Homo sapiens: one gene and its partners. The protein of the gene in region 2 interacts with the protein of the main gene of each other region in a pairwise test. Each region holds a gene or a part of one and is shown on either strand. Other genes may lie near its edges.

What was found. The genes of interacting proteins can lie anywhere in the genome.
Region 1: the proteins of VANGL2 (region 2) and LRRC7 interact in a two-hybrid assay, tested with the Homo sapiens proteins (one large-scale study listed by BioGRID).
Region 3: the proteins of VANGL2 (region 2) and PTPN4 interact in a two-hybrid assay, tested with the Homo sapiens proteins (one large-scale study listed by BioGRID).

Annotation. Positions count from the first base shown.
Region 1 is NC_000001.11:70,137,922-70,141,392, reverse strand, and holds part of LRRC7 (leucine-rich repeat-containing protein 7), read right to left. Parts: 3' UTR 1-3,471.
Region 2 is NC_000001.11:160,407,064-160,410,563, reverse strand, and holds part of VANGL2 (vang-like protein 2), read right to left. Parts: intron 2,761-3,500; exon of another isoform or gene 2,676-2,760; intron 2,562-2,675; exon of another isoform or gene 2,309-2,561; intron 2,109-2,308; exon of another isoform or gene 1,930-2,108; intron 1-1,929. UniProt on the Homo sapiens protein: Involved in the control of early morphogenesis and patterning of both axial midline structures and the development of neural plate. Plays a role in the regulation of planar cell polarity, particularly in the orientation of stereociliary bundles in the cochlea.
Region 3 is NC_000002.12:119,958,922-119,962,421, forward strand, and holds part of PTPN4 (tyrosine-protein phosphatase non-receptor type 4), read left to right. Parts: intron 1-1,885; coding exon 1,886-2,032; intron 2,033-3,500. UniProt on the Homo sapiens protein: Phosphatase that plays a role in immunity, learning, synaptic plasticity or cell homeostasis. Regulates neuronal cell homeostasis by protecting neurons against apoptosis.

The DNA.
Region 1 (3,471 bases), about 90 Mb from region 2:
ATTAAGAGAAACATTATTTGCAAAAGTATTTGTAGACAGAGTTGGGCCAAAGTCTGCATGAAGCTATTGTCTCATTTGCAGGCTCCCTTTCTACTGACTTAACTCTTAAAAACCCTTTCTTTCTCCATGCTCCATTTCCTTATTTTTCAGTAGGCTTCATACCCTTTTCGTACCTGAACCCTGAATTGTCCCAACTGAATGAAGCTCCCTTGCTCATTTGCAGCCACCAGTTAACAATGTCCTCTTATCTACATCTTTTGTTATCTCTTCCTCTTTATGAGCTTAGAACTCTGGGATGACTCCTTGGCCTCTCCTCCTGTGCCACTTAACTACTCATTAGAGGAAAATCTGCTTGAGTGTTCCATTGCCTTATTAGTCACTGATTTAAGGCTCAATTCAGGACATACTTATTCCCTGGGCTACACCTCAGTTGCGAACTGAGGAAAGTTGTTTATAGAAAAATGACTGAAAGTTGCTTCTCGATGCTGCTCCCAGTGGTCCTTGTCATTAATTATGCATTTATGTCAGTTAAGTCACTGACACTTAGGGAGAAGGGAAAGCCATCTGAACCAAAATATTCAGTCTTTGTGGCTGTGATTGGATAGGAGGGCCTTTGAATACTTGTATCAGTAAAGAGATACTGGGCAGGGCCCTTGAATGCTTTTTTTCTCAAGCCTGGTTTGGGAATAAGGTGGAAAATGCATGCAAGAGAGTAAAGGATTAGAGGCATTAGCCAAGGGAACTGTAGTCAATTCCTGACTTTTTATATTATACTTGCCTGAGGATCACCAGAAGGATTTTGTCTTGTGCAGAAGGCTAAAAGCAGAGTCATACTTTCTCTGCCAACAGACTTGTTGCCATGGGAACCAGTGCAGAAAAATGAAAATATGACAAGAAGCCAAGGATTAAATGTAGAAAATTGATAGGGAGTTGATTTCTACATGGCAATTTAAGCATTGAGGATTTAAAGAAACAGGATGTTCCTTATGTGGCCAGATCAATGAAAATGGACAAAATGACTTACCAGTAGCTGGTCCTAGGGGGCTGAGGTGTGGAAAATGGAAGGAGAAAGTAGTAAGCGTGCTGTAGTTTGGATAAGGGGAACTTTGTAAAATCTAATTCCACTCCTGATGAGGTTAAGCTTGCAGCCCAATGTTAAAATTAACTGTAGGATCAAATATACCCTTTGGAAAGGCATGCCCATGCTTAGCTTGATAAAAGCAGCCTGATGTAACAATTTTCTTTTCACCTTTCCAAAACCAGCACATACTACTCGACAAGATTATTGCACATCTAGTTTATTATTGCTTGATGTATCTTTTCAATTACTCCAACACACAAAAAAACGAAAAAACCCACCATTTGCAAATCTATGCCTCCCTTCCCCCAATAAGGCAGCTATTGTAAGTACCCTAGAATTAAGTTTCTCATTAAGGAAATAATTATTTTACTTCATGTGATACAAGTCCTCCCTGTGTACCCTTCTCTGTCATTCAGTACTTAATAATAAACTGATCAAACCAGACTGTAGGAGTCCAGGAAAACCTTTAACAAGGATTTGGAGTTTCAGCATAATCTGAGAAGGACCTACATGTTGTATTTTCAAAGGCTCTAAGGAGACTGTACCTGCCGTGTCTCCGAAGCTTTCCTGAAAACCTACAATTAATGTCTCATTCCTATGACTTCAGCTTTGGCCTATTTTGAAATGCAGTTGCTCTAAGGAGATGTAGGAAGGTCACCCTGTAAAGGATTTGATTTAACCCTTCCTGCAGAGCTAGTTTTCAAATAGTAATGGCACACTTCACCTGATGTCCTCTTCTTCCCTCACCCACAAAGGAAAAACTAAAAACATAACGTCCACCTGGGCAATGGGTAGGGCTAGAGGCCAGGAAGTAGGAGACAAGCCATTATAGCATAGTTGTCTTTAGGGTACATCTGAATCCAAATGGTCTGAATAAAATATGCTCTTTGTGCAGTGTTACGTACACTGGACAGATTTCACTAGACATGCTTGTTTTCTTTCTCACTTATGACTTCTGGATCTATTTGTTAGAGTTCATTACTGAAGCCTTTGACAATCTCAATGAGTTCTTGAAATGTCAAAAGCTCGTTAATTTCCTTTATCCCAAGAGTACTTAATTCTGAATCTGAATTCTGAAATCCAATAAAACGCCTGAATGTTCTATCACTTGCTGTTTGATAGTACATGCAGGACCCTAAACAGAGGTTTGAATACTGAGATACTGCTGACACAGAATTCCTTATATCAATATTCTAGTGACTTTTAGGATTGGAGACTTGTGGGCTTGGTTTTTGCAGTAGGAAGCATTAGAATAACCTGATGCAGGACTAATTGAAGCTACATAAAGCATTGCTTTTTCCTAAAGGCAGGTAGGCAGATCTCTTTCTCCGATAGGCAAATAAAACATAATAGGGTCTTCACGAGCAGCTATGCCTTTGAATTTAACATATGATAGAGACTGCTGCTTTTCATTTCTAATATGGTCTCTTTAAAATCAGGTAGCTGATGCCTGGAGGAAGACTAGCTGGTCAGGATTAAACTAAAAATGATTAGCTTTTTCTGTGACCTGGCACTGATCTTCTCACTGGTAGATCATACCTTGGACAAACGAGCTCCTCCACACAGAAAGGCCACCAGATACTACTGTATTTAATGGTTTTACTACATCTATGCATTCTTCTGGTAAGAATCTAAAATAGTTTAAAAAATCTCATAGGGTATTGAGAATTTAAATTTGGCTCCTTAAAAATTTTGAAACAATTTGATTAATCCTCTCAACTTTCTATGAGGTTGTACAAATGATTATTTGCTATATCATGTACCTTAAAGAGTTAATAGACATAACTTCTGTAGTTTTCCTTAGTTTATCATATAGCTCAGTCACAAAAGGACCAATATCCCTCATTTTAGAATATTTATTGCTTTCTACTACCACAAGTATTTGGAATTTTAAAAAAAGACTTTTAAGTAGAATAATGATGTCTGTGTAGTAGGCATTATGCTTTACAGAACTGATCTTTTTTAAAAGGTGGCTTCTCCATGTTGACAACTGAATATACAAAGATACAGAGCTTTTTTTTCAATACCTTTCAACCTGGATCTCCAGTAATATGCCCAAACTGGTACTTGAAGGTCAGGAGTCCTTTGATTAAGTATTTAAAGGCACAATCTCCATTTTCAAATGTAAGCATGCTGCACAATCCATCACATATTTTTAATCAATTCACATTTTCTAAGTTGATGCGCAATGACACTAAGTTTCTACAAGGAAAAACCAAACACTTCATCACAAAATGGCAGCTAATTTTCCAGACCATAACTGAATTCATACACTTTTTGAACTCAACTTTATTATACAGTCGCTGTTCTACATCTAGGCTAATCCTGAGTGAAAAATCTTTGATTTTAACCTCAAAGAGCAAGCAAAAACTCTGGGATTTTGTTGGAAA
Region 2 (3,500 bases):
ACCCCCATGTGTGGCGCGTGCTGGGGGCCGATGACCAGACGCAGGCAGCTCCAGACGCCACCTCCTGCCACTGCTCTAGCCCGGGCCCACCCCGCAGCCCAGTCCCGGCTACTTTAGGCCTGGGGTGAGGTAATGAGACAGAGCATAGATGCAGACGGGGCTGGGAGAAAGAGCTGTGGAAACCAGGGTGAGTAGGCCACGGAAGAAAAGGGGGGCAGGGACAGAGCAAAACATGTACCTAAAAAGGGCACCTAGTGTTCCTCATCTCCACCGAGGACAGGGCTGGAAGCAGCTGAGAAGGGTGCTTGGGTTTGATTTTTAAAAGACTTCCAGCCAGACGGGAAGACGATGGGAAAGAGGACAAGAAGCCTCAAGTTCTCCTCAGACAGGGGCAGAGATCTCTGATAGGACCATTTTTCTCTCCGTAGTCAGGGACTAGGGAAGGGTGGTTCTGCCTGAACACAGGGAAATGGGTGTGATTACTGCTTCAGAACCTGCCTGAAGAGTCGTCTGTGGGCCCCTGCCCACTAAAGGTCTCCGATTCCTACTCAGGAGCCTGGGTCTTCCTGCATATGCCTTGCACCCCTTTCCCACTGCAGCCCGTGGGCAGGGGTATGCATGTGGGCACCCCCTAGCTGCCTGGCTCCCTAATCATCACCATCCATAGTGCCAAGGTCCAAGGATATCAATATAAGTTCCACTCAAAGTGCTGGAAGCCCACCTTCAGCCATGGAGGTGGCAAGAACTAAGCCCAGGGTCCAACCTCCCAGCCCAGGATCCCAGGAGCTAGCTCTCCGTGCTAGCTCAGAGTACAGTCAGAGTACCTCACCAAGGCCTAAGGCCAGTGCAAGGCAGAGCAGAGACTCGAGACACAGCTGTCGCACTTCAGAGCCTTGCTTGGTTTTCCTCCTTGTCACACACCTCCCCTGAGTTTCACAGATGTGCTCAACCCAGGCAGCGCTGTCAGGCCCTGGTGGGGGGCTGAAGTTGATGGGTGTGGGTTGAAAATGCAGACATCCAACACAGCTTCCACAGACGGAAGGAAGGTACCTGAACCTCTGACTATGCCCATATCATTCCCCTGACACCCCTTCCCCTTTCCCTTTCCCTTTCCCTTTTCCCTTCAGGAGGACACAGCTGGCTGAACCACCCTCTTCTCAGCAGTTCCCAGCACCAAGCTGAAAGGGGCCTTAGAGGGACAACCTCAAATTTTACAAATAAAAAAGTGGGACCCAGAGAGAGAAGGTGACTAGCCCATGGCCACTACTTCTACGGCAGCCCATTTCTGGCCTCCTCTAATTGTTGGAAAATCGTAGTAACACTGACTTTGAGGAGTGCTCCTCTTGGAGTGAGACCAGGTTTCTCCATGAGACTGCTCTGGACACTGGTTCCTTGAGTAGCCACAACTGCAAGAGGGCCACGACAGGAGAGGATTTGCTGACTCCGTCCTGCCCCCTCTTCTCACCAGGGACAAAGAGACAGAGACTAGACAGGCCTCAGCTAAGACAGCCAGAACCAAAGAGCCTCTATCCCCAAAAGGGGTGGTTCCTGCACCCATCCATCTACCACAACTAAGAACCTTGATGTTCCTTCATCCCCATCCAGCCTTGGGCTATGGGCAAGCCACCCATCCAGAGAGGCTGGGCTTTTGCTATCACCGAAAAGACTAAGGTACAGAGTGGGCAAGGACCAGCTCCAGCCCTGGACCAAAAATAGGATGAAGATTTTGCCCTGACCCTCATTCCTAAACCCTGAAAAAGGCTGTCCTTGGGTGACAGTGCTGCCCAGGAGGCCAGAGAGAACAGCTGTATCTTGGTGGGCTGAGGGGTGGGAAGGGCAGAGCAGGGAGCCCAGGAGCTGGCACCAGGTGCCCCACCCCCGCCCTGTTAACCAGGCATTCTCCCAGGACAGCCCCAGAGATGAGCTCACCATCCTCATAGCCCCAGGGTGGGGGCAGGATCCTTCTCCTCACTGGGCTGAGTGGCAGAGGAGGGGTGGGATCCTGGCCATGCTTGTGTCATCCAGGCATCTAGGCTTCCAGAGCAGCTTCTCACCAGCAGACCCCAGTGCAGGGTGCACCGCAGGGGAAGGGCCCACAGACTGGGCTCCTGGCCAGGATACCTGAGCTTGCATTCTACCTCAAAAGCAGTTGGGGAAGCCAGAGCCAAGCCCCTCTCCACCTACGTCCTGAATTTCCCTCAGTCTAAGGCTGGGGGTGAGGCCGAGGACCTCTAAATCCGCAAACACACCAAAATACCCACCCATACGCATACACACCCACACTCTGTTCCCCCTCTGAAACCTGGAATCACTCCTGCCTGCCCCACCCAGCTCCACCCACCCTGGCTAGGCAGGTTCTGTAGAGACCTGCTCCGCTGTCTCTCTGGCACCCCCACCCCCATCCCAGCTCCCAGAAGGTACCTGCCCCCCAACACAGCACACAAAAGCAGACACGTGTGCACATTCATGTCCCATAGCACCCCATTCCCTAGCCTTCCCCAGACCCATTCCTAGTCCGTCTTGAAGAGAACACTGGGGGTGGAAAGGCTGCAGGAGAAAAGGTGAGTAATGCCCCTGGCATCTGTCCCAGGTGGGGGCCGGCGGGAAGACGGGACACTAAGCTGGTGGGAAGGCAACCAGGGCTTCTGGATTCTCCATTTAATTTTTACCAACAGGCAGGCCCCACAATTTCCACCACCAGGCTTTGAGCTGCTTCCTCCCTTGGCCTAGGCAGAGAACTGGCCCGTACCTGCCCACCAGGTGAGCTGTGGAAGAACCAAGAAGGAAAGCAGGCAGCTTGAGGTGTCTTCAGGGAGAGGGTGGACAATGGGAGGTGGGTGAGTTGTGCTGACCCGTAAGTCAGTGAGTGTCCTGTACACTCCAAAAACAAATGCCCCCCTCTTCCTAGCCTGCTGCTCGAGGTAGGCCCCAACTGTCCCTGGCCCCAAAAGACCTTCAAAGCCTGCTCACCCAGCCCCTGCCCTGGGGTGCAAAGATGTGAAAAGCAGCTAGTTGGGAAGGGGAAGTTAGCCAACCTCGGGCTTGCTGTGGATGGGGAGAGTTGAGCTGTGAGGATGGAGTGTGAGGGAAGAACATATGGGGGCACTGTCAGCAAAGGCTGGATTGTAGGAAAGTGGTAGAGTGGGCCTCAGGGTGTGAGATGCAGTGTGACTGGGGATGAGGGTGGCAGGGCTGGGTATCCCCATCCTGAGAACCTCCTGTTGCCTCAGCCCAATGCCTTGGATCTGGCAACTTGGCCAGTTCTTATCTAGAAAACCAGATCCAGCTGAAAGGCCCAAGTACCAGCCGGCCTCCACCATCGCGACCACCCCCCTACCTGAGATTCTCACTCTTTGCTGAAAATTCTCAACTCTCCCATCCCTTATATCTGCCACCTCCATTCCTGAAGTAAAGCAGGTGTCAAAATGCATGTTTTTGTTCACAGTCTGTTGTTTTTTAAGTGACTGCATTCACACTTCGGGCTCAGCACCTGTTCCTAT
Region 3 (3,500 bases), on a different chromosome or scaffold from region 2:
GGTCAGTTTTAAACAGCAAAATCACCAGTAAAAAAACCCAAAAGGTAAAAAGTAAGGCACTACATAGAATGCAAAAAGGCCACTTGTTTACAGTATGAGAGCTAAAACAAAATGAGTTGGTTTGTTTGATCTCACCTGGAAATGTGCATGTCTTCAGATGACTCAAATTTTTCACTGCTCTAAGTATGTCTACTAGATGACCAAGAAATCCCTGCAGCTGTTTTGAGGGTTATGAATAAATTTTAGCAAGTAGTCAAATTTGCAAATAGAGAATCCTTGATGGAGGATTAGCTACTTAGGAATATATCTCTGATAAGGCCTTTTTTTTTTTGGTAGCAAAACCACAATACTATTTTAACACTTAGAAAAATAATATCAGAGTTAAATGAAAAATACGTGCAGTTTACAAAAAGAAAAGTGCAAATGAAAACTTCAAGGAATTACTATTTCACCTGAGATTGAAAGAGCAAAAGTTTGGTAATACTACATGTAGGTCCACATCCTTTATGTGAAACCTTAGGTTAAATATACTATGGGGCCAGGCGCAGTAGCGCATTCCTGTAATCCCAGCACTAAAGAGAGGCATAAGCTGGAGGATAGCTTCAGCCCAGGAGTTTGAGACCTGCCTAGGCAACATTAGGAAGACCTCATTCTCCACATAAAGGGGCAGTGAGTGGGAGGGTGTAGAAAAATATGCTTTGGGATTCCGAATTTTTGGAATTTTGAAAGGGTATTTAGTACATATACTATAATAAGTAGCATCGCTGGCAGGCTATGGGACAAGTGCTCCATAATCAATATATCTGAATAGTTAACAGCAAACTATAGATATTCTCCCTAAGTAAGACTAATAAAGAGTGCAAATAGTCTTAGGTCAGTTCAGGTCAGATTTTGCTGTCAAATGAGCACAGGTTGGGGCAAGTTTACAGAAATAAAAAACATGAGGGCCTTAAATCTGCATTAAATATTTTCTTGTATATTTATACAGTAGAGCCATTTAAAAGAATGAAATTTTATTTACTCATCAAACATCATCTTGAAGATGAAGTAAAAAAGACAAGCAGAACAACATTATATATATAGTATACTACCATTTTTAAGCAACAGTTTTACAGAAAAGTGGGAAGTTGCATATATGTTTATATGTTGTATATAGAATATCCCTGAGAAGGCTATATGACAAACAGAAAAAGATTACCTTCCTGGCTGCAAACTAGAAGCTGAAATGGGAGAAGAGACTTTCTTTATTCACTCTTTGTTATTCTTTGAATTGTCATGTGCATATATCACCTTTTTAAAAAAAATTTAATCTCAAAATGTAGTAGGATAATGACTGATGACTCAACTTTCCCAAATACTATCTTACCTCTTTCTGAAAATTATGAATTTAAAATATTCTGATACCCTCTAAAGTTACTTTATATGTAAAAATTCAAGCTAAAACCAATGGCAGAATTTTTGTTCCTCACAAATTTTACCAATAAACTATTTACAGATAAGTATTTTTTATTTCTTTACCAAGTCTCTGCCTCTGAAACAAAATTCTGTGTTAAGCTGCTTTTAAAAATCATAATCGGCCGGGTGTGGCTCACACCTGTAATCTCAGCACTTTGGGAGGCCAAAGCAGGAGGATTGCTTGAGCCCAGGAAAATATTTAAATTCTTATTTCCACTAATTAAAAGATAAATACATGTAACTGTTGAACATTGCCATGAAATTTCTTCTACAGATAAAATAAGAAATTGTTAATAAAGATTTGTTTTACTGACGGCAGTTTATTGAGGTTAGTTGTATTCACTATAACAGTTAGTGGATGATTTTCCTATTCCTGATTACTGTAAAAAGTAATGCAAAACATTTTATTTTCATGCCCTTTTCTTTTTAGATGGAAATTCCTTCTTCCAGCATTATAAATCAGTACATTGCTTGTCAAGGGCCATTACCACACACTTGTACAGATTTTTGGCAGATGACTTGGGAACAAGGCTCCTCTATGGTTGTAATGTTGACCACACAAGTTGAACGTGGCAGAGTAAGTCATAGTTGAATCTTACACATTGCTTGGACTTTTTTCAAATTATACTGCACATATGTAGTCAAAATATTCATATTTATTTAAGCCTTTGTAACCTTTAATCTTCTTTTCTTGTGGTTTCTTGTTTTAAATCATCATGTTTAAGTGCATAAAACTGTGACTAACACATAAATAAATGTGACATAAGTGTTAGCCATTACTGTCATTGTTATTTAAAGGGATTAATATACATTTGTTAAGGGTCTTGTGTCTAACGTATATACAGAACTCTACAGTAAAATAAATAATGCAATTTAAAAATGGGCAATGGATCTGAATAGACAGTTCTCCAAAGAAGATATACAAATGGCTAAGAAGCACACGAAAAGGTGCTCAACATCATTATCAGGGAGATGCAGATCAAAACCTTAATGAGACTTTATATCCTAGAGGATGGCCAAAATAAAAAGGACGTATAAAAACAAGTTCTAGGGATGATATGGAAAAAACAGAACCCTCCTATTGTGGGTTTGTAAAACCATCCAGCCATTTTGGAAAACAGTCTTGTAGTTCCTCAAAGAGTTAAACGTCGAGTTGGTATAACTTAGTACTTCCATTCCTAAATCCAAAAGAGTTGAAAAGGTCTGTCCACACAAAAATTTGTACATGAGCATTCATAACAGCATTATTTATAATGGCCAAAATGTAGAAACAACTCAAATATACAAATAAAATGTGGTATAGTCTTATGGTTGGATATTATTTGGCAATAAAAAGGAACGAAGTAGTGATACATACTACAGCATGGGTAAACCTGGAAAACACTTAGCATAGTGAAAGAGGTCAAAAAGACCACATAGTGTATGATTGCATTTATATGAAATGTCCAGGATAGGCAACTCTGTAGAGACATGAAGTAGATCAGTGGTGGTCTAGATCTGGGGTAAGGATGGGGGAACGGATGAGGAAGAATGAACAATGACTACTAATTGGTATAGGGTTTATTTTGGGTGTAATGGGAATGTTCTAAAAGGGATTGTGGTGATGGTTGCACAGTTCTGTGAATATACTGAAAACTATTGTATACATTAAACGAGTGAACGGTATGGTACATGAATTACTTGTCATTACAGCTGTTTTAAAAAATCTTAAGATTTAATGAGGATTTTTGCTGCCTCAAAATATAGCCAGATTACTTACTATTAAAAAGGGAAAAAAGTGACAAAGAAAAAATGTCGGCTGGGCGCAGTGGCTCACACCTGTAATCCCAGCACTTTGGGAGACGGAGGCAGGTGGATCACCTGAGGTCAGGAGTTCGAGACCAGCCTGACCAATATGGTGAAACCCCGTCTCTACTAAAAATACAAAATTAGCCAGGCTTGGTGGCACATGCCTGTAATCCCAGCTACTTGGGAGGCTGAGGCAGGAGAATCGCTTGAACCCAGGAGGCAGAGGTTGCAGTGAGCCAAGATCGTGCTATTGCACT